4 linked regions of the Homo sapiens genome follow. The protein of the gene in region 2 purifies or fractionates together with the protein of the main gene of each other region. This does not show direct contact. Each region holds a gene or a part of one and is shown on either strand. Other genes may lie near its edges.

Region 1 (4,921 bases), on a different chromosome or scaffold from region 2:
AGACTGTTTCAAAAAAAAAAAAGGGAAAGTAAATAGAAATGTGTTTTCCATTGCTGGAAGAGGACAGGACACCACAGAGAGGATTCTTTTTTTTTTTTTTTTTTTTTTGAGACAGGGTCTCGCTCTTTCGCCCAGGCTGGAGTGCGGTGGTGCGATCTCAGCTTACTGCAAGCTCCGCCTCCCGGGTTCACACCATTCTCCTGCCTCAGCCTCCTGAGTAGTTGGGACTACAGGCACCCGCCACCCCGCCCGGCTAATTTTTTTGTATTTTTAGTAGAGACGGGGTTTCACCATGTTAGCCAGGATGGTCTCGATCTCCTGACCTCATGATCTGCCTGCCTCGGCCTCCCAAAGTGCTGGGATTACAGGCGTGAGCCACTGCGCCTGGCCAGGATTCTTAAATCAGTGGTTTGTTTTTTTTGAGACAGGGTCTCGCTCTATCACCCAGGCTGGAGTGCAGTGGCGTGATCTTGGCTCACTGCAACCTCTGCCTGCCAGGTTCATGTGATTCTCCAGCCTTAGCTTCCCGAGTAGCTGGGATCATAAGCGTGCACCACCATGCCTGGCTAATTTTTGTATTTTTAGTAGAGATGGGGTTTCACCATGTTGGCTAAGTTGGTCTTCAACTTCTGACCTCAAGTGATCCACCTGCCTCGGCCTCCCAAAGTGTTGGGATTACAGGCATGAGTTACAGCGCTCAGCCTTAAATTAGTTTTGATCAGTCTTCACCAGGCTCTACCAACACAAGATTCTGTAATGAGAGGTTAAAGAGATTATACTGCCTTAACTGTTAATTAGCAACTCTTTTCTCAAGAAATGGTGTAGGAGAGTACATTTCTCCAAATAACCATGAAACCTAACAAGAAGCACAGCTGTCACGCAGTTAAGTTCTGTAAATAGAAGACTACATGGATAGAATTCCTTGTTGCAGTTCTGAGGCCAAGAAGGGAAACTGGGCACTCACTGCTTTTGCTCTGGGCAGAGGAAGAATGTCACCAGGAATCATGCTTCTTTCTGGAATATATCAGTGTGGTGTTACAGAGGTGTTTTCAGTCATTCTTTTACCAGTTTCCATTGGCTAAATGAGAAGCAGAAGATTCATAGCGTAACCTCATAAACAGCTGGGAAGGACAAGTATTAAGTGGTGAGATCTTTTAAAAAGTAAACGAGGGACTGGGCACGGGGGCTCACACCTGCTATCCTGGCACTTTGGGAGGTCGAGGCGGGCAGATCAGCTGAGGTTGGGAGTTCAAGAGCAGCCTGACCAACATGGAGAAACCTCGTCTCTACTAAAAGTATAAAATTAGCCAGGCGTGGTGGCCCATGCCTATAATCCCAGCTACTCGGGAGGCTGAGGCAGGAGAATCGCTTGAACCTGGGAGGCGGAGGTTGCGGTGAGCTGAGATCGTGCCATTGCACTCCATCCTGGGCAACAAGAGTGAAACTCTGTCTCAAAAAAAGTAAATGAGGCTGGGCTCAGTGGCTCACGCCTGCAATCCGGGCACTTCGGGAGGTCGAGGTGGGGGGATCACCTGAGGTCAGGAGTTCAAGACCAGCCCAACCAACATAGTGAAACCCTCTTCTAAAAAAAATACAAAAATTAGCTGGACTTGTTGGTGGGTGCCTGTAATCCCAGTACTTGGGAGGCTGAAGCATGAGAATCCCTTGAAACCAGGAAGTGGAGGTTGCAATAAGCTGAGATTGCATGCCACTGCACTCCAGCCTGGCGACAGAGTGAAACTCCACCCCCCGCCCCCAAAAAAAGTCAATTGGCACAGAGACAGGAAGCAATGCTCAAATGTCTCCCTGATCTGGAAGTGGGTCAAGCTTTTATGGCATTCCTATCTAGTCCTAGGTGATGCCAATGCAGTCGGCCTGCCAGGCTCGTGGTGGTAACAATTAAAACGTTAAAGCTTTTTTCCACTGTGCACGCTCAGGCAATTTTGGCTGTCTCACCTGTAACAACTTAAGCAATGGTTAATCAGTTTGAGCTGGTCCCACAGTTACAACAGGATACTCCTCAGAAAATGGTGACCACTTTGGAAGGAACGATGCTTACTGTGACATATAACTTTGGAATGTCTATTTTAACTTATTGCCAAGCCACGAGAACAAAGTAACGGCCTTGAGAGTTATTTGAAAGGTTTTCAAAAAAATTTATTTTCATAAATTAACACACATAACAGTGGAAATCTTAGAGTCACAAACTACCAAACAGAAAAGGAACTGCAGGGGCATCATGTATACCAATGTTACCAAAAATGTACAAATTTCATTGAACTACTGACCATGATAATATATAAACATGTCAGGCAGCTATTTTTACTGGCCCAGACCAGCCCAAGGAGATGCTGAGGCCTCTCACCAAGAATTCAAATCCAATTCAGCACCAGAGAGGGGCTTGTGAAGACACACAATCAACAAACATGGAATCTGAGAGCACACTGCACTAGATGGCCAGCTCAACGGGGACCCCCTTTCATCATCAAAATAGCTTTTGCTGCTTGATTTGTGGCTAGACGGTAACATTAAACTGTAATTTTAGTAAAATTAAATCTCCCTAGCCAGGTTTTTATACAGTAAGTTCAGTTGTGGCAAGGAGCCCTTTTCTGACACGAATCCAGGAAAGGATACTCTGCACTTCTGGCCAATTATTTAAACTTTGGATACAGCCACCCACAATGTGGTTATTTAAGAAGTCCTTTCCATGACACCAGGGGAAAAGCTTACAGAAACAAAACAGAACAAGGGAATTACAGAAAGCACCAACTGCATACTCCCCCCACCCCAGGGAATGGGAGAAAAGTATCACTGCCTAAAAGTTGGTCTTTCGCAGATCTTAATGTACATGGCATTGATTATGAGACGGAATTCCAGCCTGGAGACGGAGCGACGGCCGTGCATTCATTGGCTGCACCGCGGCCTTGGATCTGCTGCTCCCGTCCTGTACGCTCCCTGCTGCTCTTGGCTCAGTGGGCAAGGAAGGAGCCACGGGGGAGGTCTCACGCCCAGATAGTGGGATCTGGAATGGACCTCAGGTTGGCTCTGGAGCCCGTGCCAAAGACCCTTTCAGGCAAAATTGTGACAAAGTATCATGATTTTCACAGCTCTTGAGGAGCGCTGAGTTTTGGGATTCACAGCATGGGTTTCTGGGCTCCTCAGGCTCCGAATAAGGCAAACGCTACATGTCTTCACCGTACCTCCCTCAGCTACTGTAGCTTAGAGTAAGGTCAGTAAGAAAAAGTGGACATGATCTGCTTTAACAGGAGATGAGGTACAGCTGAACTCATGGAGACATGAAGCTGGAAAGGAGACCAAAAGCAAAAAAAGAGGAGGGAACGCGGAGGGAGAAGGCAAACACAGCTAGAAACTGAAAGATGGAAAAAAAAACAAAAAACAAAACACAGTTGAAAGTTTCAGTGAAAAGCTGATGGGCAGAACCCTGATTAGACCTGAGATTTCTCCTCTTTCCCATATTAAAAACACTAAACCTCTGGAAGTGATAGTTGAGTAAGCTGTAGTTAACTGTAACTTCCCACCACTTGGGGAGGGAAGTTCCCATACTCAGAAACTGTACCAACTCCACCCCAGAACCAGACCTCCTGTAGCTCTGGGCAGGTGGTGTGCCAGCAGCCGATTACCATGTCCCATCGTGGTTAGGGACCACGGGCCTGGGGACCCCTGACAACACTGCAGCTGGCTCAGTGCCGAAACTGAATGTTAAGACAGGTGTGGCTGAGCGCAGCTGGAGCCTAGGTATATACATCACCTTCAGGTAAGTAATTTCAAGTTTGCAGTGGGGCCCCCTTCTCAACTTTGGAGCAGGGGAAGGGACCTAGCTAGAGGGTAGGTCCAGAATTTCAACGACGGGCAGGGCTGGCCTCACAACAACTCCTCTCCTACATTGTCAGGACAGGGAAGGAGCCCAGCTCTGTTTCTTCCAGTCCTCTGCTCCCAGTTACCCATGTTCCAAACCGCTGCTTCTGGTCCTTCGAGTGCCACACCTGTAACAGGCACAGTTGAAACTATCTCTGCCATGTTGGTGACACTATAGCTGTGCCCACTGTTGTCTCTGGGAAACATAGCCGCCACATCACTGCATCTATACTGGCAACAGAGCTGGCAAACAGGGCTCTGTTGACTCACTGCTAGTCTGCAACCTGTCCAGTAGGAGCTCCTTAAACATGCCTGGACAAGGGCAAAATGTACTACTCATCCCACTCCCTTAAGCAAAAAAGTCAGAGAGAAGCATTTAGTGTCTAAGAACCCTGTCCCAGGAAGGGAGAGGTATTGAGGTGAAACATAGGTCGTGTCTATACAGTCTGGGCAAAGTGGATGTAGAATGACAGAATCTGGTTAGCATCATTCAGAGCTGGTACGGAAGCCTGGCTCTCTTCTAACTGTATTTGGCCATGGCCTTGGAAGCCTCCGTGGATGACCAAGTGTGTATTTCACTCGTCTCAATGCTATGTCTGAGGCAGTGGGCCTAGAACATAGCCGTGGCACACTTTTCCCTCTGGCTCATGTCAGTTTTTCTGCTCCAGTGTGGCATAGACTGTCAACCTGCAAAAGCAAGGCACATAGAGACCCCCCACCCCCAACCCATCTCCCCATCCACTAGCAAATGGGGAAGCAAAAGAAACCTAGGAGAGTTGGCCAACATTCCAGGACGTGCCACTCACTCTTCTCTAATAGACTGACTTGGAAATGTCCCTAGAACTCTGACGGTTCCCATCGGCGGCTGCTCCATGCCAGTGGCTCCCAGGAGGATATGAAGAGGTGATGCTGGTGTCCTGACGATGACTTTTGCATCCCACTCACTAGCCATGGAATGTTAATTCTCTAAACTCTTGTTTTGAGAGAGAAAGAGAAACCCCTAGAGAAGGAGGGGAAGGGGAGCAGGATATGGACACACAGGACT
Region 2 (8,635 bases):
AAAAGTTTATTATGTGAGCTATCTCATCTTACCAGGCACCGTTTTACAGGTGGGGCAACTAAGGCTGAGAAAGGCTTCAGAGTCTGCCCGAGGGCCCTTACCATGAGTAACTGGGGGGGATAGGAGAGAACCCCCACAGCAAGTCCTCCCCCCAGACCATGCTGTCTCCCAGCTCACAGAGGGCTAAAAAGTGTTCTTCCAAGAGAGGCAGGCCTGCCTTTGGGGACAGTTTTACTACCTTTCCCTCAAGTCTGACAGTCAGGTGACCATAATATAAATTATGTATTTCAAAACATATCCTATGCCACAGTCCACAGGGAGAGAAGATGCTTAAAGTAAACCCAAGAACAAAACCAAGCAGGTGTCTTGCATCTCATTAGTCATGGAAATTCATCAGTAGTGCTTAAGTTCCCAATAAAAACATGGCTTGCTTCGCTGAAAAACGTGAGGCCAGCAGGCTCAGCATAAAGACAAGCCAGTAGGAGCTTTGGAAAGACAGGCACTTCCTGTAAAGAAATACAAAATGCTCTAGATTTTTACAAGCCTATCCTTAAGCCTTCTCCAGAAGTTAGATTTCCAGGTTTTAGTCAACGCCACTTCAACAATTTCTGAGCACACATTGCTCTTGAGACAGAGGTGCGGTGAGCTGAGGGGCATCCCTGCCCTTACATAGGCTTCTGGTCATTAGAAGCAGAATGACTACAGCTGTGAGAACTAGGAAGCGGGCCCGGATCTGCCAGAAGAGTTGGGAGAGAAGCTGGGATGAGAGGAAGGCAGGCTGAGAATAACTGCGAGAGGCCCTGCAGCTGCGTCTCCCAGGATGAGGGGAGTGGGCACAGGAGCAGGTGGGTGTGCGCCAGGGACACGAGTAGTCTGGATAATCACAGAAGAGTTTCTGTAGATGTGCCGGAATGAGGCTGGATATCTTCTAAGGTGGATTTAGACTCCAAGAAATGGGAAGTGACTGAAAGTTCTTAATACATTTTATTTATTTACTTATTTTGAAACGGTCTAGCTCTGTTGCCCAGGCCAGAGTGCAGCCAATCACAGCTCACTGCTGCCTCTACCTTCTGGGCTCAAGGGAGCCTCCTGCCTCAGCCTCTCGAATAGAGTAGTGGGGATTACAACCATGCACCACCACGCCCGGCTATTCTTTTCTATTTTTAGTAGAGACAGGGTCTCCTTATGTTGCCCGGGCTGGTCTTGAACTTCTGGGCTCAGGCAATCCTTCCACCTCAGCCTCCTTAAGTACTGGGTAATTATAGGCATGAGCCACCACGCCTGGCCACTGACGTATTTTAGAGATGTGTCGCTTACAGAATCTACAAGTCACCAATTTTAAGGCATACCATTTAAGTAAGCCATATAGGCTGCTGACAACGCTATGGGCACACCATTGACTAAGTCAACCGCTGATTTCAGAGACGTTAAACTGTGAAAGAGCATATCTTGGACAATGAAACAAGTTCCTTATGGAGGCATGAGGGGTTGGCGATGGGAGACAGCCTAGTGGCCGACTGACTTATCAAGAGGCTCTGAAACCTGGTGAAGTGAGGGCTGGCAAGGGAGGAGGTGAGAAGAGGATGTGAAAGGTCTTAGAAGTTTAGGATAAATAAGATTTAATAACTTGTCACATAAGATGGAAAGGAAGAATTCAGAGAGTGCTCTGCCATTCCTCTCTGGTTACTCGAAACTGCTATCTATTCAGATAATAATTACATTTCCTCTCACAGGTGAGGAGACTCAGGAGCAAAAGATTAAGTAACTTGCCTAGTTGAGGGCAGGACCTTGAGTTTCCATAGGCTAGATTCTCAGCAGAAGCACTGTGACTGCCTTAGTGCCTGCAGCAAAATCGCACACCTGGATGTGCTAGTTCCCACAGCAGACTCTGATGCGTGCCCCCCAGAGTTTAATGTTCATCCAGTCCCTCGTGATGGTCCAACCACACAACATGCAGATCTGTCTTTCAGCAGAGGACTAATTAGGACTTTGACTTACGCACACTTCAGCAATTCAGCAATACATATAGGAAGTCTTAGAAATGCTCGATCCATTTGAAAGAAAAATCCCACTTGAGGAATTCATTCCAAAAGTGTCAAAAAGACACAAAACAAACAAGCCTCCCCACCCAACAAAAAAACACACACCAAACACCAGAGACACTCAGAACTGGTATTCCATACAGAGTAAGTCAAAGTGGAGGATTGGAAAACTACTGTCCAAGAATGAGAATGAGTAACAGTTAACTATGGTAATACCAATTGGCTGAAAGTTTTAAAGGACCATATTATACTTCAACAAAAGTTTACTTAAAAAGCCAAAAGAGAAAGTCACATAGCATGTAATAAGCAAGTTTTAATGTGAAGGGGGGAAAAGGGCAGAATATTAAAATTATAAAGTTATGTCTTAAGAAAAAGGATGAGGGAACCCCGAAAAATGAAGTTTGAATAAATTATGACTATAGCCATCCCTGTTTAATTAGGAGTTGTACATTAAAATATTTTAGTTAAAGAGCTGGCTCAGCCAAAGATCTGTCCTAAGAAGCTAAAGACACGGACCCATCCTGGCACATCTTCCCAAAGAAATATGAAAATGCAGACCAAGAATTGGTCCCATTCTCAATGATTTTGTGCTGTTATGTCATTATAAAGAGGCTGGGTACCATAGCAACACCACAGGGTGTGTCCAAAGTACTTCCTAAGATTAACAGACTTGTTCTGTTGGCTGCCAGGGCAAAACACAGTGTCCAAAAGAGGACAAGAGTAAACCCACCGGCCGGACAGGGGCTGTAAAGCCAGCCAGGCCTGGGGTCAACATTCCCTCTACTACCTGCCCCCAATCCCCCAATTACATAGCTATATGATCCTGGGCAAATTTCTTAGAACACTAAGAATCTGTTTAGTTTTTTATAAATTGAGAAGAAACACCTACAGCACTGGACTGCTCTAAGGCTTAACTGTGACATACAAAGCACCTTGAATGGTGCCTGGACACTAGAGCAGACTGCTACTGGGTGTGAATTATGCTAATGTCTCTGGACACCACTGGCAGCTGTCCAACACGGTCACAAGGCAGCCTGTCAAGAACATGGACACTGGAAAGAGCATCTGGATGTAAACCTAGGCCCTGACCTTTCTCTAGTGTTGTGCTGGACAAGCAACTTGACCTTGATGGACACTGACGTTCTTGTCTGTAAGAACAAGTTATATAAACACCAACTTTACAGTGGTGATGATTAAATGAGAAAAGGAGTATGAAAATACTACGAAATGCTAGCTATTACTACTTGGAACATTACAGGGGTTTGTTAAAATGTAGAATCCACCAGCCAGGCAGAGAGTTGGGGTACCCCTAATCCATGGCAGTCCGGGCTCAAGTATCTCTCTCCATATGCATGGGCCTTGCCACACACCTAAGCCTCAGCTCTTGCCAGGCTTGTTTCTGATTTACCCTTTTACAACTCATCCTTCCTTTCCCCAGATTTAGTCCACATTCCTGGCAGCTGATTCACCCAGAGCACCTCTTACAGGCTGCAGTGAAGTAACATCTATTGTACTGTAACCATCTCTTCCATTAGACTGGGCACTCACGGTGGAATGAAATCAAGTCTCTGGGTTCCCCACAGTATACCACATGCACACCTAGGTGGTCGATAAGAGGGTGAAATAAATCAAGATAAAAGTCATGCGCTGGAGAGGTGTAAAAAGAGAAAGAACACAGAAAGTAGTAGTAGGGTATGCAGAATATGCAAGTTAAAGACAACTAGGTCAGGATCCAGAATTTAGAAGTCACTAAGGAGGGTTCCTAGCCCTACAGATACCAGCAAAGGCCACATTTGAGGTGAATATGAGCAGACTACAAGTTCTACTTAGGAAGCACCCCTCGAGAGTTTATACTATAAAAAGCCTTACCCAACGCAACCCCAATTAACCAAAGCTCTCAATTAAGGAAGGGCTGCTTCTGTCTCCTGGGGCTGGTACCTAAAATCCCCAATGCACATAAAAAGTAGTCGGTCAGGAGCAAGAAGTCTGTGTGGTTGCCCCAAGTCATTCAAGAGTAGAGCAGAGAGCAGGTGGGGTCCCTGGCAGCTGAGACACACAGAAGGAACCAACAGAAATCAGCAGTGCCACAAGCACTGATCAATATACAACTAAAAACAAAGAGGAGCCATTAGTTTCTTTCTTTTTTTTTGGAGACAGTCTTGCTCTGTCGCCCAGGCTGGAGTGCACTGATGCGATCTCAGCTCACTGCAGCCTCTGCCTCCCGGGTTCAAGTGATTCTCCTGCTTCAGCCTCTTGAGTAGCTGGGATTACAGGCGCCCGCCACCACGCCCAGCTGATTTTTTGTATTTTTAGTAGAGACAGGGTTTCACCACTTTGGCCAGGCTGGTCTCCACCTCCTGACCTGAGGTGATCCGTCCACCTCGGCCTCCCAAAGTGTTGGGATTACAGGTGTGAGCCACCGCACACGGCCTGAGCCATTAGTTTCTGAGTAAAATATGATTATGCCCATTTTACAACCAAGAAAAACAGAAGAACCTAGAACTTAAGCTACCTGTCCCAGCAGTACCCCACAGCAGTTAAGAAAGCATACTCAAGTTTGAATGTCTGGCCTTGAATCCTGACTTGGTTACTTGCTTAGCTGTTTTACATTGGGCAATTTCACTAACCTTGGTACCTCAGTTGCCTCACCTATAAAATGAAGATAATCACGGTACTGACTTCACCTGATACATAGCAACCTGCAAGTTTCAGCTCTTATTTACAGGGTGAAACTGGGATTAAAACCTTCTGACTCTGAGTCTAGCATTTTATTGTATTGTGTTAACTTATATTTCCCCAATGCCAGCCAGCTCTCTGCCTCTTGACCTGGCGGCTCTCTAAACTCTGAGACCCAAGCCACAGAAGAGGATTCAGAGTTGCTTTTCTAAGGGCTGGGGAGGGAACGGCCTTGCTCTGCTCTGAAGGTTCCCTAGGCACTCGACAAGTTGGGGAAGTTTGCAGGCTGACAACCCATCTATTGCTAAGACCCTGGTCTATCCTATACTATTATAGTTCCTCCCTCAGCTTCTTCCTTCCCCTGCTTCCCCAATGCCCCTAACTAAACTCCCAGACAACTGTACTATTTTCTAAGATGCTACCACTTGTGACCCTGCATTATGTTCATGTGGGCATGCGTCCTCTGCATGCCTCGTGGAGAAAAACTCTGCATGGCCTCTTATAGTAGCCTGGCTCAAAGCCACTTGGTGTGCAGGCAAGATTACTTTCCAAGGCCTCGGTTCCCAGCCACCTAAAGGCATCGACATCAAACAATTGGTAAAGAACAATTAGTGTCTTATCAAGTTGAGTGTAAGCTAGGCTCCCGGCTCTCCCAAACTTCTAACTATTCTGTTATATGAGTCTTGAGAGTTTGTCCTGGATTAGTGTCTGTGAGTGTGTCCTCACTTGCTATTTGTCAGAAGAATCAGTGTGTGCCTTAGACAAAGCAACAGAATTTCTGACTGACAGTGACTCAGGCTTGCCTGCTGTCTAAGTGGCAGTAATCTTGAACTTTGTTTTAGGCACATTCAGGACAGGCATTCTCGCAATGGAAAACAAGGGGATAAAAGCAAACTGTTGATGCCTTCACCCCCCCAACCTTTATGTGAGAAGTATTTCAAAGTTAAAAACATAGGCACCAACCCTTCAACCAAATAATTTACAGGATTGTAAATGTGGTTTTAAAAAGCCTGGGAGGCTGGTTTGAGTGCTATCACTAACTCATTGTGGATAAAAGTTTTGTCCCTTTTCTGGGCTTCAGTTTCCTTCCTTGTGAAACAGGCAGCCAGGTCACACATCTAAGACCTCTTTCTATTCCTCCGAAGCTTCTGCTGTCTTAATGCCTCTGGGTAGGACGTGTTTGGTCTGTGCACAGAATGGAAGGAGACAATGCATTTAAGGCTATCAAACAAAATGGGGTAAGACCAAGAACAGCATTTCAAGACATTTCTCTTTTCGATACTGGATTATTTTACTGGCCAAATAGTGAAACGGACTCCCTTTGTCTCTTCGCCTATCCACAGTCCTAGGCACCCTACTTTCAAGCCCACCTTCTCCCTAACTCCTGATTCTCTTTCCTCTTAATTCTTGTGCAAAGCCCTTGCTTATGAGTTGACTGGTCATTTCCTCCAGTGATCTTGAATAGCATTTAAATCTTCTTCCAGTTCTCAAACTTTTCAAATGTAAGTTCCATTGGGGCAAGGGGTGGTGTGTTTTGCTTTGCTTTTTTTCTTTCCCTTCAAATACCACAGTAGGGACTCAGCATTAGGTTTAGTTGAGACTTCAAGGCAGATTCACACTTTTTGGCCTGTTCAAAATCATTCTGAGTTTTAGGAGGCAGGGCCAAGGGTGACTGTAAAGGACTTTTCTATTTAATGAGAGAGCTGAACCAGGTTATCTCTACGATTCCTTCCAGCTTTAACATTACTGGGTGGTATTTGCATGCTGTAAACCCAAGGCCCCAGGACAGATCAAGACCCCTAAATTTTGGAATCCAGAATAAGCAAAGTTTAACCTGGAGTAATTTTGGTATCTGTTCTCTATTTTAAGAAGCAAAAATGATTACCTATTTACTACTTGAAAAATCCACACATTGCAAGTCAGCTTGAATGTCATTTTCATAAGCAGAAACAACACATATTTTCTTCACTGCTCTGTCTCTGAGCCCTGAACACCGTAGAGGTTCAAATATTTTAAAGACTCCAAACAACTGAAAGGGACCAATCCAATCCAGTGTACGGCCTAAAGCAAAAGATTTCATTTTTCTAGGTCCCAGTTTTAGTTCACAAAGGGAGGATGAAAACACCAGTGTTTCTGTCAACTTGGTGTGCCTGACAACACAGAAAACAAGGTGTGTTCTATGATGAAACAAGTTTGGGAAACTTGAGCAAGAACAATGTGAATCTTGAAGGGGGTGAGGGTAGAAGAGTACAGAACATGGTGTGAACTTATATAAGGCAGTGAATTCCTCCCTATGTGGAGCACTTGCTGACATTAACAGTTTGCACAGTGACCCTATGTACCTAATGTCATAGGTACATACCCACTATCTTACAATAAAGGAATGCTCCTCACAGGGTTCAAACAATTTGCTCCATGTTTTGTGCAGTCAGTCCTGGGATGAGCCAGAGGGTCTAACCCCAAAGTCCATGGTACTAACCACTATGCTATGCTGCCATGGGGTCACTTTGGAATTTTGACAAATTCTTCAGGTGAGGAAAGTCCACATAGTATTTATATGTTGAGAGAGTAAGCAAGAGCTTCAAGCTGAGGTTGAAGGTTCGAGACTGGCGTCAATGAACTGAGGACACAAGGAATAAACATTCGGCAAGGCAAATTCCTACATCCCAAGGCAATCCTGTAGTAGGAAGTCCAGACCATTCATTGGCAGTAAAGGAGAAGACTAAGAGAAGTCTGAGAATAGAAAGACTTCAAAGTAAGTGATGCGCTCCTAGAATATAGGTAAGATAAACGAATCCCCTAGGGAGTCTTTTTTTTTTTTTTTTGAGACAGGGTCTTGCTCAGTCGCCCAGGTTATAGTGCCATTGCATGATAATGGCTCACTGTAGCCTCAACCTCCCAGGCTCAACTGATCCTCCTGCCTCTGCCTCTCAAGTAGCTGGGACTATAAGCCTGTGCCATCAGGTCCGGCTATTTTTTTTTCTATTTTTTGTGGAGACCAGGGTCTCACTTTGTTGCCCAGGCTGTTCCCAAACTCCTGGGCTCAAGCCATCCTCCCACCTCAGCCTCCCAAAGTGCTGGGATTACAGTCGTGAGCCATTGTGCCCTGCTGGAAGTCTTTTCAAAACAAAAACACTCACCCTGGGGAGAGGGTAGGCTTCTCAGAATGGATGGGGCACGGATGGACTTTATAAAGTTAGACATCTAATTAAAGGACTCTAGGTGATACTGATTCATGTTTCCAACTCCACTGTCAAACAACTGACTTGCAATGGGACAAAGCGTTCTCTTGGGAAAGACTTGGGGGATCTTTAAGTTGTGCAAAAGTAACAAGATTTTGGGAAACCACCCCCTCCAAACTCACCCCAAATCCTACCCACTCTTAAAAAAGTTCATCCTCAGGGTGCAGAGAACAGCATTACGCCTTCGAAAGGATCCAGGCCTCGAATCAAGACAGATCTGGGATCCCCGTCACTTAAGCTCTGAGAAATGTAAGGAAACCAGGAGTACAGTCTAACTTCCCTTTCAAGCGGATTAACCCTGATCAAGTTATTTGTTCACTTCTAAGCCTTAGTTTATTTATAGAAAAAGGATAGAATTTACTTTTGAAGTTATTACCTAAAAATTACTTCAGCACTGAGACCACAGCTGGGACTCGGATTAGTAAACTTTCTTCCCCTGGATCCTCCTGCCTCGGAAAGTCTCCTCAAACTTTCTACCGCCTCTCTCCTCTCCAAGCAGACACTTAGCTACTGGTAGTATGAAAAAGGCTTGTGAGTACTGAGTAGTTAGGATGAATACATTCCCTAACTGCAGTTAAAACCCGGAAACTAAGATAATTAGTTCCTCCAGGACTGCAAGACCTCTTGCCTCAATGTACCCCATTTTCCTTTTAAGTAAAACCACTTCCCAGCCAG
Region 3 (9,259 bases), on a different chromosome or scaffold from region 2:
GTAAGCTATACAAGCCATTACTTCCTATAACCTTCAAAAATATTTCAATATTGAGCCCCCAAATCCTAAAAATTAACTTGGCTACAGATGATAAATTTCATACAGTGAGATGGAAAGAAAATTACCAGGTGGTCCAAAGACCCTCTTTGAGTTTTAATGAGTATTATTTTTTAAAGTCATTTGGTTATCTACTCCATACTTCACAAAACGAGAATGACCCAGATTTCAAGTTACCATGAGTTTCAGTCTTCACTCTGTGTGGGGGAAAAATCAGCCTTCATCTGTTTAAGCCAATCACTTTAACATCTATGACCCTCAGATAATGCATTTACAGTATAAGAAAAGGAGTGGTCTAGACTCTAAAAGGTTTCTAAGGAAGGTCTCTATCCATCTCTAAAATCCTGTTACTGTAACCAAGATTTTTAAAAACATTTATGACCTGCCTCATTTCAAATAGAATCTGCTGCAGTTCACATCTCACATCCAAATATAACCACCAAAAAAGACTAAACAAAAACAACAACAAAAAAGTATAATACAACAGCACACACAGAACACATGAGAACCAGAGCCAAAAGAAAAAGAGAAGCAAAGGTAATGTTAGTAATTAGCCCCAATATATTCCCAATATTACCAGCCTACATTATTTTACACAAACATATTTTTCCTACTGTTTTAAGAGAAAGGGGTGGGGGGAAACAACAAAAGAGAAGGGGGTCTCATTCTTGCCCAGGCTGGAATGCAGTGGCTATTAACAGGTGCAATCATAGCACACACTACACCCCTGAACCTCTGGGCTCAAGCAATCTCCCACGTAGCTAGGTCTACAAGCATACCAAACATCACACCTGCCTAATTTTAAGTCAGACCACTGACAGAAGCCATTTCTTCCTTTCAAACTATCCTCCCAAAAGATGAGGAAACCATTCCCTAAGAGAAGTCTTTTAAGAAATACCTCTTGTTTTAAGCCATCCAAAAAGCAAATACAGTAAGCATGTTTCATTTTGAAAGAAAAATAGAAAGCTGCCTACAAAATCAATTTGTATCAAGAAGTCATTTTTCCAGTAATTTCTTCAAGTTTACTTCTTGAACTTTGAAAGATAAGCTTTCCTTCCCACTGGATGCCAGAGGAAGTGACTGAATGCTCAAGCTGGCCATTCATAGGCACTCCAACCCTCTCAGGGCTCCAGGGCCAGGCATGGAAAGTACAACTGCAGTCCAGGGAGGCCTGCAGCAGCTAACGCCTTCTTCAGATTTTCTCCTTATCGAGTCAATTTTGGAATTTCCTTAGTTTGAGAATTTCAAACAAAGGGCCTTGAATTTGCAAGAGGCAAGCACTCTCATCTCTTAGTTTTTGAGGACTCAATTAAATACGAAAAAAAAACCTTCTTAAAAATGGTAATTACCTTCAAACTTCTTTGAAAATTTAGATTAAATGACACAACCAAAAAAGAATTCAAGGGAAAATTATCCCTGTAAAGAGTACTGTAGGTTACACAGAATTACAAAGATCTCACACATTACTTTAAAAATACATGGTCAGGGAAAGGTTTAAAATCATCAAGATTGTACTTCCTTTTCATGGAAATAAACCATACACAGAAGTTATTACATTAATAAGTTGGCTGAATCACTAAATCAAAGTACAGGTCAAATAAAACCCTAGAAAAAAGTAAAAGCTCAAAATAGCTATCAATAAGTAAACTTTTCAGCAGCAAACTTTCATTTTACCATAAAAGAGAAGCAACTGAGGAGAGACACATATTGAACTTGCTTCACGTGCCTCCTTTGCCTTGACTATAAGCCTCGTGTTTCCAGTAGAGAGCTAAGGAGCAGAATGGCACTAGAGGAGTGCGTTTTCACTAGAGAAGCACTGCCTCTAATACTCCCCTCTGGGGTGACTCCATGACTTTCAGTAGCTCAATTTCCTCAACAACTGAAACAGCTGTTTTAGAAAATAAGCCAACTCATCTACAGGCCTTAAGTTATACAACTGCAGAGAGAAGAGGTGCCAAGTTCAGGAAGCCCAACAGAGACCAAATCAGAGCCAGACGCTGGGGAACTCCAGGTTTAATATGCCTTCCACTACTCACTTCCACACTCCAAGAAATGTCTCCAACCTTTCTGAGAGTTCTTTATGGCTCAGAATTTCTCCTTAAGATTTAAAGACCCAATTACTTCAAGGAGCAGCCACCAAGATTCCAGGCCAGCTTTAACCCAGAAGTCCTCCTCTAGAGCTGCAGTAAGATGTATGAATGCTACTGGGAAACTGTAGAGCACTTCCAAAACATCAGACATTTTCTAAAGAACAGAAAGCTACACTTAATTCACATTATTGAAAAGCTGCCAAACCACTGATTTTTAGACTTTATTAGTCAAGTCAACGCTATGGTAAACTATATTTCAATAAAGCCACTAAAAAAATACAGAGTTTCCAAATTCCTAACAGTTAAAAAGGATAAAGGGCGGAGACTAAGCTCAGATCTGTTTCAATCTCTCCATATTAAAATGAATGACTGCTGGTACAGACAGCAGAGACTAAACAATTATTTGTGGTGCAATCACTGCATCTTAAAACCCTCAAGAGGAAACAGCCTGAGAGGGTAGTCTCCAAAATGAGAAACTTCACTTTGAGACAATCAAAAGAACAAAACGAAGTCACAGTGCTACTCCCACCGCTGCTCTTTCAATTATAATTTACTAACATCAAGTGATTAAAATCTGCAGCCAGAAAAGATCATAATGTAGGACAACAAAGTAGGAACTGATCCCAAAACGCTAGACAGTATTCTCCCAATATAAGTGCTGCCTTTTCGTACAGTGTATTCTAGCTCCAATGGGACTTGTAAATCACTTATAAGGAAAAGAAGCCCCTTCCCCCACCAACCCAAGCCATCCTAATAGCTGGGCGTGTTTTACAGCAAATATGAAGCACTCAGGAGCGGTCCGAGGCCGACGCTTGCGGGGCCATCCTCCCCCACCCGCCCGTCACCAGGGCGAGCAGAGGCCTTTGGGGTTCCATGGCCCCCGACCGCCACGCGGCAGGACTCCGACCCCGCAGCCCAGGAGGCCCGCGCACCTCTGGGAGCAGCCGCATCTGGCAGAGACTCAGGGCTGCGCAGGCCTTCCCCAAGGAGACAGAGGCTTCTCCCCGCCCAGGGAGCCCAGTACCTCATGCTGTAAGCGCCGGCGCCCAGTTCCTGCCCGATGCCCGAGAGGCTGGCGTCGAAGTCGTGCACCAGCCCGGACTCGATCACCTCGTCCATCTTGAGCACCCAGGCCATCTTCCGGCCTCGCCGTCGCCCCGCACACCGCGGCCTCCGCGTCCAGGGCGAAGGAGCCGGAGCTCCGCTGGCGCGTCCTGGGGGAGGGCGCGGGTGAAGCCTCCGGAGGGGCGGCGAGTGGTCACCAGCGGCGGCCGGGACGAGAGCTGCGGGGGCCCCACTGGCAGGGCACGACGAGCCCAGCGAGCAATTGCAGCGGGAGCGGCCGGGCCGCCGGCAGCGCCACCCTCCCGCGGACACCGGCCCTGCGCCTCATGCCGGCGCCGCCGCCCAGCCCCCGCGCCGCTAGCGCTGCAGCCGCCGCCGACCGCCCCGCCCGGGGCCCCCCGGTCGCATCCTCCTCCGGGACCGCTGGGAGGCTGGACCTCGGGCCGCTCCGAGGACCACACGGGGGCAAGCCCTCCGCCCGCCCGTCACCCGCCCCCAAGCCTTGACTCCTTGCCCCCGGCCCGCCCAGGCTCTAGCGCCACACCGCCCCGGCCAACCCCGCCGACGCCGCTCTGCCGGCCGGACGCTGGCTTCAACGCGACTCCGACTTAGGTTCACGCGCCGCTTCCGCCTCCCCCGGCCCCGCCCCGACCCCGCCCCGGCGTTCGCCCCACGCCTCGGCCCTCCCCGTACAGCCCCGCGCTTAGGGCCACTCCCCGCGCCTCGCGGCCCAGGAACTGTCCAGAGAGTGCAATGCGGCCCCGCCCACGCGGCTGTTCCCAGCCGGGGTGGCCTCGCTGCGTCCCCGCACAGCAGCCCAGGAAGAGGCGGTGCCAAAAGGGCTGCCAGTTTCCGCCCCTTCTAGCGAGCGAGATGATTGACAGGCCAACTGAGCAATACCTGCAAGGGCTTGGACGAAGCTCCCGTGAGTCTCTGTGTCCCCCGACTAAACAACCAATCAAAATGTTCTTCACCTTGGGCGGGCTCGAAGACGGAATTTGTTGCCAAAAGAAAGAGTTCATTGGACTGCATGGTAGAAAGCGACCCAAAACGCCACTTCCGGAGGTGATTTGCTCCTCTGTGGTATTTCCCGGTCGTCTCTGCTTTATGCCCTCTCTACCGAGGGAGTGAGCGGTTTGCACCCCATCTGGTGACAGAAAAGCCAGTTGTGCAGAAAACCTTGATTGGCGTGAGAATAAGCCAATCAACGCTCCTGAGAAAGAGCTCTGGAAAGACTTCCCCTATTGGTTGCATTGCCGAGAGCAGCTTGGCTATCCTGAGTTGAACTAGCTGTTGGTCATCCTAAGGGCAGGCGGTCTCCTGAAGTTGGACCGAACCATTAGGACGTGCCACAGTAACAGCTACGCTGCTCAGAAGGCCCGAAGGGTCTTCCTCAGCGACCTAGCGTGGGCACGCGCCACTGCGGCCAAAAGACAGAAATCTTTTTACCGGAAGAGATGAAATAGAAAGCAGGAGCCAGAGGCTGACTTACAGAGCCAGTGTGCGGATCAGAGTTCCTTAGGAGCGGCTGCTGGCGCTTGACGGGCGGAATCCTTGCTGAAGAGAACGTCAAGGCCCGGGCTTCGCCCTGCATCGAACTTACTGCCTAAGAATAAGACCCAAATGCTGAGCGCCCCGCCCCAACTTGCCAGTTTAAGTGCAAAAATACATAGATTAAAATGTCAGCCTAATAAAGCAGTGGCACTGAGCCAGAAAAAAATAGTCTCAACGCCTGTGTGATTTAGATACTAACTTACAGGCTCACGCCTGTAATCCCAGCACTTCGGGAGGCCGAGGCGGGTGAATTAGTTGAGGTCAGGAGACCATCCCGGCCAACATGGTGAAACCCCGTCTCTACCAAAAATAACAAAAATTAGCTGGATGTGGTGGCGCGCCCATGTAATCCCAGCTACTCAGGAGGCTGAGGCGGGAGTAAGGCTTGAACCCGGGAGAAGACAGAGCAACACTCGGTCTCCAAAAAAAAAAACCACAAATTAACTTGGAGAATGTTTTTCTCTTTACACAACATTTTTGCAAACATTTCATTTGATAAAGCCATACTTTAGAGATGAGGTAATTCAGGTGAAAATGTGTAAAGATTACACAGTGCAAGGTCACACAGTAAGCAGGTAAACCGGGGCTATTTGACTAATCCAGATTTCTCTGATTCCAGGCGAAAACATTAGATTGGCCATCAGTTCAGGAAGCTCCATTCCACTATTACAAATAAATCTGCACAAACAATTGGATAGTCAAGGGAAACATTGGTCTCATTGGGGGTCTCAGATATGTCTTCATTCCATGATCTCACCTCACTTGCATAACCTAGTCTATAACCAGATTAGCCAGGCCTACTATTAGTTGTTGGAAAATTTGGAGAAATGGAATTGGGGGAAGATAATTCTCTGGTTTTTGGAGAGAGTGTAAAAGTACAAGCTACCATCAATTTTTCAATCAGGCTGTGCCCTAAGGAAGTACTGGGTCAAATATTTAGAAATTGAGCCTCAGGCTGGGCAGTGTCTCAGGCCTATGATCCCAGCGCTTTGGGAGACCAAGACTTAAAGCTTGGGAGGATGGCTTAAGGCCAGCAATTGGGAGACTAGCCTGGGCAACATGGCAAGATCCCGCTTCTACAAGAAAAAAAAAATTAGTTGAGCATGATGGCACGCTCCTGTAGTCCTAGCTACTTGAGAGAGACTGAGGCAGGAGGATCACTTGAGCCTGGGAGTTTGAGGCTACAGTAAGCTATGATTGTGCCACTGCACCCTAGCCCGGATGACAAGATGAGACCCTGTCCTTAGAAAAACAAACAACAACAACGAAAAACAAAAAACAAAAAAAAAATTAGAGTTCTGGAGGATAGAAATAAAAGTGTTGGCTGGTCATGGTTGCTCACAACTGTAATCCCAACATTTTGGGAGACCAAGAGGGGAGGATCTCTTGAGGCTAGGAATTTGAGACCAGCATGGGCAACAGAGCGAGACCCCTGCCTCTACAAAAGAAAAATTTTTTTTGAGACAGAGTCTTGCTTTGTTGCCCAGGCTGGAGTGCAGTGGTGCGATCTCAGCTCACTGCAAGCTGCGCCTCCGGGGTTCGCACCATTCTTCTGCCTCAGCCTCCCGAGTAGCTGGGACTACAGACGGCCGCCACCACACCAGGCTAATTTTTTGTATTTTTAATAGAGACAGGGTTTCACTGTGTTAGCCAGGATGGTCTCGATCTCCTGACCTCGTGATCTGCCTGCCTCAGCCTCCCAAAGTGCTGGAATTACAGGCATGAGCCACCGCTCCTGGCCAAAAAAATTTTTTTAATTAGCCAGACATGGTGACCTGCACCTGTGGTCCCAGCTACTCCAGAGGCTGAGGTGGGAGGATCACTTGAGACCAGGAGGTCAAGGCTTGCAGTGAGCCATGATAATGCCACTCTAGCCTGGGTGACAGATGAGACCCTGTCTGGAAAAAAAATAGAAGTATCAAGCAGCGCTAAATAGTAATGTCATAAAGAGACCAAAATATAAAAGAAGGATAGTGTTAAAAGAAAACTTTAGACAAATTAAATATAAGAGTTTAATTTTGCAAAAAAAAGATTTGTCAATCAGGTAGCCACCCCGAACCAGAATATGTTCAGAGAGACTCCAACACTGTTGCATGGTGGAAGAAGATTTATGGACAGAAAAAGGACAGTGATGTACGGAAAACAGAAGTGAGATATAAAAACAGCTTGATTGGTTGAGTGTATTATTTGAACAGTTGGCCTCCTGTAATTAGCCAAAACTCAGCGATTGTTATAATAGGTTATAGACCATTTATACATCCAGTTAGGTTACAATTTACTGTGTACAGAGAAACCTTTAGGCTGAACTTATAAGGAGGCAACTTTAGGCTAAACTCAATTTAACAATTTCTCCCCTTTTGTTCAACCTCTCAACTTGACCAAAATAGAGAGGTTGACCAAAATCCTAGACATTGACATTACTTTCTGACCATTGTAAATGTACTTATCTGGTCGCAAATCCCATTGGGAAATAGTACAACAGTGGGTTTTGTAAGGTGCGAATAAGGACTTTAGGTTATTTTCTGGTAAGCGTTAGAGTAGAGGATACTTTTTTTTTATTATGTTGGAATTTTTATTTATTTAAATTTTATGGACATTTTATGGATGATTGTATGTAAACATTTAAAACTTTTGAAAGTCCTTAGTGCACATAGGAGACTACTATTAAGATTACCAAGAGGATAATACCAAGACTTTGGAGTATGCCCCTTAGCCAGGGTCAACATGAACTAAACTAACTAAAATCAAATAGATCAAAGAAAGAGCTAGATAAAAGATCAAGCTGTTTTAACCAAGCAGCTTGTTTATTAATCCCCTGTAACTGAATCTCTATAATACCTGATATGTTCATCTCTGTGCAACAAGAAGTGTGAGCAACTGCAGATACTTCTCTGTATCTGCATACAGAGATACATACTTCTCTGTATGCAGATACAGAGAAGTATCTGCATACAGAGATACATACTTCTCTGTATCTCAGTAAGTAATATACAGCAATTCCGTTATCTAGCACAACTTTAGCAAGAGAACTTAAAGTCTGTTGTGCCATGGCCTTTGCAGTAGAGTCAGCTATAGAGTCTACTATGAGGGATAAATTTCCTTTTTCTTTCTTTTTTTTTTTTTTACTTGTTGAGACGGAGTCTTGCTCTGTCACCCAGGCTGGAGTGCAGTGGAGCGATCTCGGCTCACTGCAAGCTCCACCTACCGGGTTCATGCCTTTCTCCTGCCTCAACCTCCCGAGTAGCTGGGACTACAGGTGCCCGCCAGCACACCCAGCTAATTTTTTTCTGTTTTTAGTAGAGACGGGGTTTCACCATGTTAGCCAGGATGGTCTCGATCTTCTGACCTTGTGATCCGCCCACCTCAGCCTCCCAAAGTGCTGGGATTACAGGCGTGAGCCATCATGCCCGGCCTTTTTTTTTTTTGAGATGGAGTTTTGCTCTTGTTGCCCAAGCTGGAGTGCAATGGTGTAATCTTGGCTCACTGCAACCTCTGCCTTCCAGGTTCAAGTGATTCTCCTGCCTCAGCCTCCTGAGTTTTTGGGATTACAGGCACCCGCCACCATGCCCAGCTAATTTTTTGTATATTTTTTTTCAGTAGAGATGGGGTTTCACCATGTTGGCCAGGCTGGTCTTGAACTCCTGACCTCAGGAGATCCACCCACCTCGGCCTCCCAAAGTGCTGGGATTACAGGTGTGAGCCACCGCGCCCGGCCATGAGGGATAAATTTCTTTTTTTTTCCTTTTTTTTTTTTTGAGAGAGTCTCACTCTGTTGCCAGGCGGGAGTGCAGTGGCACAATCTCGGCTCACTGCAACCTCCACCTCCTGGGTTCAAGTGATTCTCCTGCCTCAGCCTCCTGAGTAGCTGGGATTACAGACGTGCACCTCTATGCCCAGGTTTTTTTGTTTTTTTGTGTGTGTGTGTGTTTTTAGTAGAGACAGGGTTTTACCATTTTGGCCAGGCTGGTCTCGAACTCCTAACCATGTGATCCACACGCCTCAGCCTCCCAAAGTGTTGGATTACAGGTGTGAGCCACCATGCCTGGCCATGAGGGATAAATTTCTAATCATTGCTTCATTTATTCTAAATTATGGAAAAAGAGACAATAAATGATGTCTGTATCTACAAGACTGAAGGCCTCCTGGCAATGTTTTTTTTTAAATTTATGATATTGGTTAAGAGGAGTGGACTAAAGTTTTTGACTGATTATGAGGTAATAAAGGTATTAACATCAGTTATCTATATTGGGGTTTTTTAATTGTTTAATTTTTTTTTTTTGAGACAGAGTCTTGCTCTGTTGCCAGGCTGGAGTGCAGTGGTGCGATCTCGGCTCACTGCAACCTCCTCCTCCTGGGTTCAAGTGATGCCCCTGCCTCAGCCTCCTGAGTAGCTGGGACTATAGGTGCCCGCCATCATGCCTGGTTAATTTTTTTGTATTTTAGTAGAGACGGGGTTTCACCATATTGGCCAGAATGGTCTCGACCTCCTAACC
Region 4 (8,806 bases), on a different chromosome or scaffold from region 2:
TCTTTAGACTCAGTTCCCATTGCTCTTCTACTTGTTTGCTTATTCTTCCCTTTCCCACCCTTGTCCCTCACTTCAATTTGGCAATCCTCTTTCTTCGAGGTAACTCCTACAGAAACTCCTATCTTCATCCAGATTCTGGCATGCCCTAAACTTTTTCTGACCCAGTGTCTCCCGACCCAAGTTATGCATATTTCTGTTGTGGTGTTTGTCATACAATATCATGCTTATTTGTTTACTGACTGGTGGTGGTAAACAATTCTGAGGCAAGTAGTAACCAAGGACCCTACCTCTTAGCTGAGTCTTCAGGCAAACTCACGTTTGTACTGGGACAAATGTGGACACTTGCTATTCAGATGTTTTATTTACTCATTCAGCAGGTTTGGAGCCAAGGTACTATAAACCATGTCCCTAAGTATATTTTATAATATATATTCATATATTATAAAATATATATAAAATATATTTTATATATAAAAATAAAATATATATATAAAATATATAAAGTATATTTTAAAATATATTTTAAAATATATTTTATATATAAATATAATATATATTTAATATATATATTATATTTTAATATAAAATATTTTAATATAAAATATAATATTTTAAAATAAAATATTTATTTTTACTTTTTGTTATCTTAGAATAGGATCAAGAATAGTTATCTTAGAATAGGATCAAGAATAACTGTAGACTAGCTATGCTTAAAACAGAGCCAGGAAAAGGAGAAAAATTAAGCTATATAACTTATTTTGTAAGAAAAGATGTAAGAACTTTTGTATATAAAACTTCTTTTGGCTGGGCTCAGTGGCTCACGCCTGTAATCCCAGCACTTTGGGAGGCTGAGGCGGGCGGATTACCTGAGGTCAGGAGTTCGAAACCAGCTTGGCCAACATGGCGAAACCCCGTTTCTACTAAAAATATTTTAAAACTTAGCTGGGCATGGCCGGGAGTGGTGGCTTACACCTGTAATCCCAGCACTTCAGGAGGCCGAGGCGGGCGGATCACGAGGAGGAGCTCGAGACCATCCTGGCTAACGTGGTGAAACCTCATCTCTACTAAAAATACAAAAAATTAGCCGGGCATGGTGGCGGGTGCCTGTAGTCCCAGCTACTTGGGAGGCTAAGGCAGGAGAATGGCATGAACCCAGAATGGCAGAGGTTGCAGTGAGCCGAGATTGCACCACTGCACTCCAGCCTGGGTGACACAGCGAGACTCCATCTCAAAAAAAAAAAAAAATTAGCTGGGCACAGTGGTGGGCACCTGTAATCCCAGCTACTCAGGAGGCTGAGGCAGGAGAATCACATGAGCCTGGGAGGCGGAGGCTGTGGTGAGCCAATATCGTGCCATTGCACTCCAGCCTGGGCAACACAGCAAGACACTGCCTCAAAAAAAAAAAAAAAAAAAGAGAAAGGATAATATATCAAGAAAAGTAATATGGTAATATGGATAAATAGAAATTATCTTGCATTTTCAAATTATTTGGGAGCAAATATTCTTTTCTCAAATCGAAAAATTCTAAAAATAATGTATGTCTTATTTCTCCACAAACTACCCAGACAACATTTGGCCATTTGGGCAAACTATCCAACATGTATTCAGATATTAAATAAAATATTAGGTCACATTCTAATCCATGACCATACAGAAGTTTTAGAGGGACATTAAACATGATCTGCCTTTACATTAATTGGATCTAAGAACTACATATCACATACTACATTAAGAAGTCTAGATCCCCCTTATTTGATAAAATTAAGCCAAAGCTTTTTTTAGGATTATAAAATGTTAATCAATTAAACATTTTATTTTTTCCAAATATTCCAATCCAAAAATTTAAGTCTTAAAGCCAGTAAGACCAATAAGTAGGTTTGTAATAAACACATGAACTCAGAATTAATAATCAGTTTGCAAAAAAAATTTTTTTTTTTGAGACAAGAGTTTCGCTCTTGTTGCCCAGGCTGGAATGCAATGGTGTGATCTCGGCTCACTGTAACCTTTGCCTCCAACAATTCTCCTGCCTCAGCCTCCCGAGTAGCTGGGATCACAGGCATGCGCCACCACACCAGGCTGATTTTGTATTTTTGGTAGAGACAGGGTTTCTCCATGTTGGTCAGGCTGGTCTCGAACTCTGGTGGGCAGTGCAGTAGGTGGGAAAATATACTGGACTAGGAGTCATAAGTGGGTTCTAGTTTTAACCTGGCCACTAACTAGTTACATGGCCTCAGGGAAAACACTTTTAATGAGAGAGATAAGCTTACTCACTTCTAAAATCTCTTCCAGCTAAACAAATTTAGAAGTGCACAAGTAAGAAATTAACATACAGATATTTCTCTAGATTACTTCTGTAATTCAACCACAATGCACTGAAATTCTTGACACCCTTTTTTCTCTTCATATGCCTTCAAAATTGACAATGGCATCTGCTGTTCATTCTTCTTTCCTCCCTAGCACATCATGTGCTTATAATACATTTTGTATATAAAGATGACACTAGTGATCCAAAATTAGTGGGTGACTAATGATGGACCCATCAACTCTCATTCTGTCCTCCTAAAAAATGTCTTGTAGTTCCCCAGTGACTTAGCTGGCCAAAGTACAGACAGTGGTTATGAAACAGCATTTTTCTCTGTGTGAAGCCAACTAACCCTGTTAGCTGGACATAAGATTGATAATGTCACGCTTACTGGTAAGCAATTTAACTCATTCTCATTAACATCTAGCAAAATAAGTTGAGAGGAAAACTACTATTAAATCTGTTACACTCTTGGGAACCCCATTTTGCAAGAAGGCGGCAGACACTTATGATCCATTGAATATATTAGTGTTTAGTCTGTGATTCTGAAATATACTTCCAAAACACACACGGATTCGGAGAAAAAAACAGGACAAGGTGATGCGAGTATGTAAGTATCCCCTAAGATAGGTCCCTGAAAAATCCTTAATAGTATATCACATTTGGATACGTTTCAGTCGCAGGAAGGCAGGAATGCTGGATTGAAAACACAATACCAGGAACCTAAGAGAAGTCTGAAGGAAAACACAAGTATATGCGTATATATTTTCACTGGAGAATGACGTGAAGCAAAACTAAAAAACAAAACAGTAAGGCAAAGATGGTCACGCGAATGGGAGAGGTGTACGCCAGCGTCAAAAGCGAGATTTAAAGAATTTACTCAGTTGTCAACATCGGTGAAAATCGCATGTGAAATCTTTGTCAGGACTCAGTGTGATGCTGAACTACAATCATTCACTGTTCCTAGCAACTGTGCACAAGTATGCTAGAGCCTTTAACAGAATAAAGTGCTTGGGGAAAACCTCTCACAAGAGGACAAAGGGTCAATGTTACAGCATGAGCCGCCCCAAATCTGAGTGCTGTCAGGAAGGGGAGATGGAGGAAGGTATTCCAAGAGTGAACAGGAATCAGCCAAGGCGAAAGAAAACATGTGCGTGGAGGTGGAGGTTGGTAATATATGGCCACCCCGTCTGCCCTCCGAAGATGCCATAAAAGGGGTGGGATGGCATCAGGCGTCAGGTCCCAGGTCCCCGGCCCCTGGCAGTGAGGTGGGCGTAGAAAAAGGCGTAGAAGAGGGTCTGGGAGACGCGGCATTCCAGGGGTTTGGCGACAGCACCACTCCATCCCTCCGCAGAACGCAGGCCCCTTCTCACCTGGGCGCCGCCGCCTGGCAGCTGCGGGCAGCGGGGAGAACTGGGGAACACGTCGAAGTCACTCTCTTCCTCAGCCTCACCCTCGGCCCGAGGGAGGCTCCAGGGTCCCGGAGGCGGCCACGGTTGTTCCATGTCCGGCTGCTCCGGGTCCTACAACCGCCCTTGGCCCTACAACTGCCACTGCCAACAGACTTGGCGTGAATGGAACCTGCTGCGCCGAGCCAGAAGCCCAGCCGGGGGTCCGGGCCGTTACCCAGAATCCCTCTACTGGCCGCGACGCCGCTGCACACCCGGCGACAGCCTGGGCCTCGCCACCGGCGGACGGCGGAAGAAATAGTCGGCGCGGTGCGTCACTTCCGGTTGGGGCGGGGCTGTGGAGGCGCGTCCCGGGCCCTTTGCGTGTAGTGGGTGGATCTGCAATTGTATTCCTGTTTCAAGCCCCGTTTTCTTGCAGCTCTTCGGCACTGCAAACCTAACCGCTAATGGCGCTGTGGGTGGAGAAACGTTTGTTAGGTAGCGTTATATATTGTTATCTGGTGTTCCCTATACCGAAAACGGCGGGTCCTGGCCGCCGGGAGGTACTCAGACCAGGTGTGCACTTTACATGTTGCTTAAAAATTGCAACTCATTCCTTTACATTGACATTTAAACCAGTGATTCTAAGGCAGAGTTGGGGCGGAGGGAGGAGAATTTTGAACAAGCGGAGCCAATTTTCGTCTCATTTCTAATTACAGGCAACAACAGAATTCTGCGAAACTTGGTTGGTTGGAGGAGCACACCAAAAATAAAGTACCGGAGCCGGCACGGCTTCAAAAAAATTAGGATCAGTACCGCTAGTAGCGAACGCATAAGAAGGGCTTCCTGTATGCCTGCGTATCTTGTTTAAGCCTAAAGATATGTACTCTCTTTATCCTCTTTTTTTGAGACGAGGAAGTAGACCCAGCATGCCCGAGATCACACATTTTACAAGGAAGAAGTAGGATCCAGACCCAGGGAGTTTAACTTCAAAACTTGAACGTTTAACAATCAGGTCTTGCTGCCCTACTCATAAAGAGACCCAAATAAAAACAACATGACGCCATTTTTTTCCATGTGTTTAGACTGGCAAACTTGTGAAGTCGCTTAATACCAAATGTGTACCAAGATGTAAGGAAATGATGTGAGAATGTCATTAGTATAACCTTTTAGGAGGAGTAATTTGACAATATGAGAGGCTTGAGCGGATTGATTCAGCAATTTCACCACTAAGAAAGTATGCAACAATTATTTTTGCACCAATATCCAAAGATTTACTACAAAGATTTCTGGCAGCAATTTTTGTGTGTGTGTGGCAAGAAAAAAAAAAGCATTCTAATTGTCCATCGATAGAGGAACTTAAAGTATGGAATATTAATACAATGGCATATTACCCTTTTTAAAAAAAGTAAATTGTATCTGAATATGCTGATATATAAATACCTCCAAAAGGTATTGAGTTTTAAACAAAGCAACTTGCAGAATTAAACATATGCGTACGTATACAGAGAGAGAAGAGAGAGGGATGGTATTTGTTTGCGTCCGTGTGTGTGTGTGTGTGTGTGTGTGTGTGTGTGTGTGTTTGCGCAGAACATTCCTGGAGGATATGCAAGAAACTGTTAATGATTACCTCTGGTGGGTGAGCCTAGGAAGGAAAGCTTCTGAGGATCTTTACTTTCCACATTTAGCTTCCCTGTACTGTGCTGTTTGAATATTTTTCCAATGAATGTATACTATAATTATAGTATTATAACAGTACAAGATTATAACAGTACAAGATTACTATAAAATTAATTACAAATAAAAGCTGAGAATCACTTTTGCACCTAAACCTTTTGAATTTAGGGGTGAAAGTCACAGGAGAGACTGGAAAGGGAGGAAGAAAAGAAAAACATTTTTCTCTTTGCTTCCATGAAGCCACAAAGTGCTTTGAATAGTGCCTGGCATAAAGTAAGCCCTATATAAACGCTAATGCTGTTAGTTTTTCTCCTACCTCTTTCACTACTTCTCCTCAGTCTTCTTCCCTTCTAGCTGACCTCTAACTTTAGAGTTCCTCATATTTTGGCCAGTGAGGAGAATCCTGTTTATTCCTGTGGCTTTAAATAACATCTGTGTATCTATAATTCTCAAATTGAAATCCAAGTCCTGACCTTACCCCTGTGCTCCAGACTCATGTCTACCCGCTGATTTGTCATCTCATTTTAATGGTTCATACACATCTTAAATTTAACACATCCAAACCCTTGATCTCACCGCCTTCCCCAAACTTCTTTGGGTCTTCTCCGTGTCAATCAATGGCATCACCATCCAGTCCAAAACCTAGAGTTCAGCCTTAGTTCCTCCCTCTCCTTTACCTCTCATACCAACAGCAAGTCCTACTGTTTTTACCCCCAAATACATCTTGAATCTATGTTCTTTCCTGCTTTACTGCATACTCCCTAGGCCAGAACACTATGATTGCTTCTCAGAACTACTGCAGTAGTCTTCCATGCTTCTGTTCCATTCTTGCTCCTTACAATCTCTTCATACTGTTGCCAGAGAGATTTTTAAAAAATACATAAATCATATCATGTCTCACCCCTGCTATATCAATTATATGCTTTCAATGCAAATAACTGAAACCTCAGCTAAAAGAAACCTAAACTATAAGGACATTTATTGTGTATGTAACAAAAAGAATGATCCCAGGATAGGCTTAGCAGTTTGAAGATGTCATTAAATATTCAGGTTCAGGCCAGGCGTGGTAGCCTACACCTGTAATCCCAGCACTTTGTGAGGCCAAGGCGGGTGGATCACTTGAGGCCAGGAGTTCGAGACTAGCCTGGCCAACATGGCAAAACCCCGTCTCTACTGAAAATACAAAAATTAGGCAGACCTGGTGGTGCATGCCTGTAATCCCAGCTACCCGGGAGGTGGAGGTTGCAGTGAGCTGAGATCACAGCATTGTACTCCACCTGGGTGACAGAGCGAGACTGTGTCGCAAAAGAAAGAAAGGAAAGGAAGGGAAAGGAAAAGGAGGGGAGGGGAGGGGAGGGGAAGGGAAGGGAAGGAAAGGAAAAGGAAAGGAAGATTCAGGTTCTTTCAATCCCTATCCCTCCTCCCCAGCATCCTAAATCTGTTTACTTTCATCTTCAGGCTTCTTACATCATGGTTGCAGGATGGCTGCTACAGCTCTGGACATCACATCAAAATATGGCAGAAGCTAAAGCAGGAAGACAGAGAAGGAGGCAAAACAGCTTTATTCACTTGTGGCTCTCATATGAAGAATAAAGATATTTCTCGAAACCTTCTAGTGAAATCCTTATATCTTATTGGCCAGAACTGGCTTACATAAATTATGATTTGTTGTCTGGAGCTGGATGCATTGCTACCTAAACAAAACTGGAGTTCTGTTAGCAAGGAGGAAGAGTTTGTGGCAGTAAGGTAGGCAATCACATTCTCTGCCATAATTGATAAAGTTCCTGTGAAACCTAGTGGCACCCTAATTCCTGAGTGTCATTCCTTTCTTTTTTTTTTTTGAGATGGAGTCTCGCTCTGTCTCCCAGGCTGGAGTGCATGGACTGCAGTGGCGCCATCTCAGCTCACGGCAACCTCCACCTCCTGGGTTCAAGCGATTCTCCTACCTCAGCCTCCCGAGTAGCTGGGATTACAGATGTGCACCACCACACCCAGCTGATTTTTGTATTTTTAGTAGAGACGGGGTTTTACTATGTTGGCCAGGCTGGTCTCGAACTCCTGACCTCAGGTGATCCGTCCGCCTCGGCCTCCCAAAGTGCTGAGACTACCGGTGTGCACCACTGCACCCGGCCCTGAATGTCGTTTCTTAAACCCTCTCCCTAACACCTTCCTTGCCCTCTCCCACCCCAAAATCTCTCTTGGACTCCTTTCAGTTCCTCAAACATGGCAGTTCCTTTCCTAACTCATGGCCCTTTCGAGTTGCTATTCCCTTTGCCTTTTCTCTTACTTTGAAAGGCTTGCTAGTGGTCATGCTTTTCTTCTTAGATCTTAGACCAAATCTCATACTCTTAGGCCAATCTGGCCAGTGAGTCTAAATGAAGTTCTCGTTTCTTCTTCAACCTGTTCTATTTTACCACCTTGTATATTTCCTTTCTACTATTCATCATACTATTATTTTATGTTCACTTAGTTATTATGTTTCTTACCCCAATAGAATGTAAGCTCCATGAGAGCACAGATTGTTTCTTATTCACTCTTGTACTTACATGGCTCAGAACAATACCTGGCTTACAGTAGACACTCAATAAATGTGGGCTGAATAAATGGATAGAGAATGAATGAATGGAAACAAGGATAAAAGAAAAGGTTAAATAAAGGCAGAAGGTGGTGAAAAAGGAATAGAAAGAAGTATATTTTGGTAGGAGATAAGGAGTGGATATAATGATATCAGAAGTAGCCTCATCTTGAGCCATTGCTGACTTCAGGATCTGAATCCTGTGCCCTGGCATAGTAAACACTTATTTTTGGAAACAGTTCTTGCTATGTTACCTAGGTCGGTCTCAAACTCCTGGGCTCAAGAGATCCTCCTGCTTCGGCCTCTCAAGTGGCTGGGATTACAGGCATGTACCACCACGCCCAGCTCCAGTAGACACTTTTTAAACAAGTCTTGGAACTTAATCATACACTTCTACTTTCTTATTTTGGATAATAAATAAAATTCCTTGGAAATTGCTTTGGGTCATAATTTGCCTATTACTCCCATGGACATAGAGCTAGCCAGCTGAAACTCAAAGGAGCAAATTAGGTTTTTTTCTGAGTAGAAATTACTTTTAAATGGAAAGACTATGTAGTCCAAAAAGCCCAAGGGCAGCCCTTGTGGAAGGACTTGTGTTGCATCATTATGTAAGCATTGAGCCTACAAATGCCAGTAAATGAAAGCACAAGCCAAAGAGAAACATGAGTCTGACTCATAAACTCTAATAAAGTTGGGTGAAACAGAACCCATGTGTGGGTCCACATCCCAAATGACTTCAAGATTGTTAAAAGCTGTGCAATTGCAATTTGATTCCTTCCTTGGAAGATTCCTGGAAAATTCTTGAGAAGTGTGTATATGTAAAGAAATACTCAAATTGCCAGCTCCTGTTTTGGATATTCATGC

Evidence for each region.
Region 1: the proteins of STK35 (region 2) and PRR14L purify together in Homo sapiens (affinity purification with mass spectrometry; 2 studies listed by BioGRID and IntAct, with this or other methods). This does not show direct contact.
Region 3: the proteins of STK35 (region 2) and UBP1 purify together in Homo sapiens (affinity purification with mass spectrometry; 2 studies listed by BioGRID and IntAct, with this or other methods). This does not show direct contact.
Region 4: the proteins of STK35 (region 2) and CDC37L1 purify together in Homo sapiens (affinity purification with mass spectrometry; 2 studies listed by BioGRID and IntAct, with this or other methods). This does not show direct contact.

The regions. Positions count from the first base shown.
Region 1 is NC_000022.11:31,679,212-31,684,132, forward strand, and holds the end of PRR14L (protein PRR14L), read right to left. Parts: 3' UTR 2,136-4,921; downstream 1-2,135.
Region 2 is NC_000020.11:2,104,065-2,112,699, reverse strand, and holds part of STK35 (serine/threonine-protein kinase 35), read right to left. Parts: intron 1-8,635.
Region 3 is NC_000003.12:33,436,565-33,445,823, forward strand, and holds the start of UBP1 (upstream-binding protein 1), read right to left. Parts: upstream 3,842-9,259; 5' UTR 3,285-3,841; coding exon 3,172-3,284; intron 1-3,171. UniProt on the Homo sapiens protein: Functions as a transcriptional activator in a promoter context-dependent manner. Modulates the placental expression of CYP11A1. Involved in regulation of the alpha-globin gene in erythroid cells.
Region 4 is NC_000009.12:4,674,769-4,683,574, reverse strand, and holds the start of CDC37L1 (hsp90 co-chaperone Cdc37-like 1), read right to left. Parts: upstream 4,007-8,806; 5' UTR 3,808-4,006; coding exon 3,676-3,807; intron 1-3,675. UniProt on the Homo sapiens protein: Co-chaperone that binds to numerous proteins and promotes their interaction with Hsp70 and Hsp90.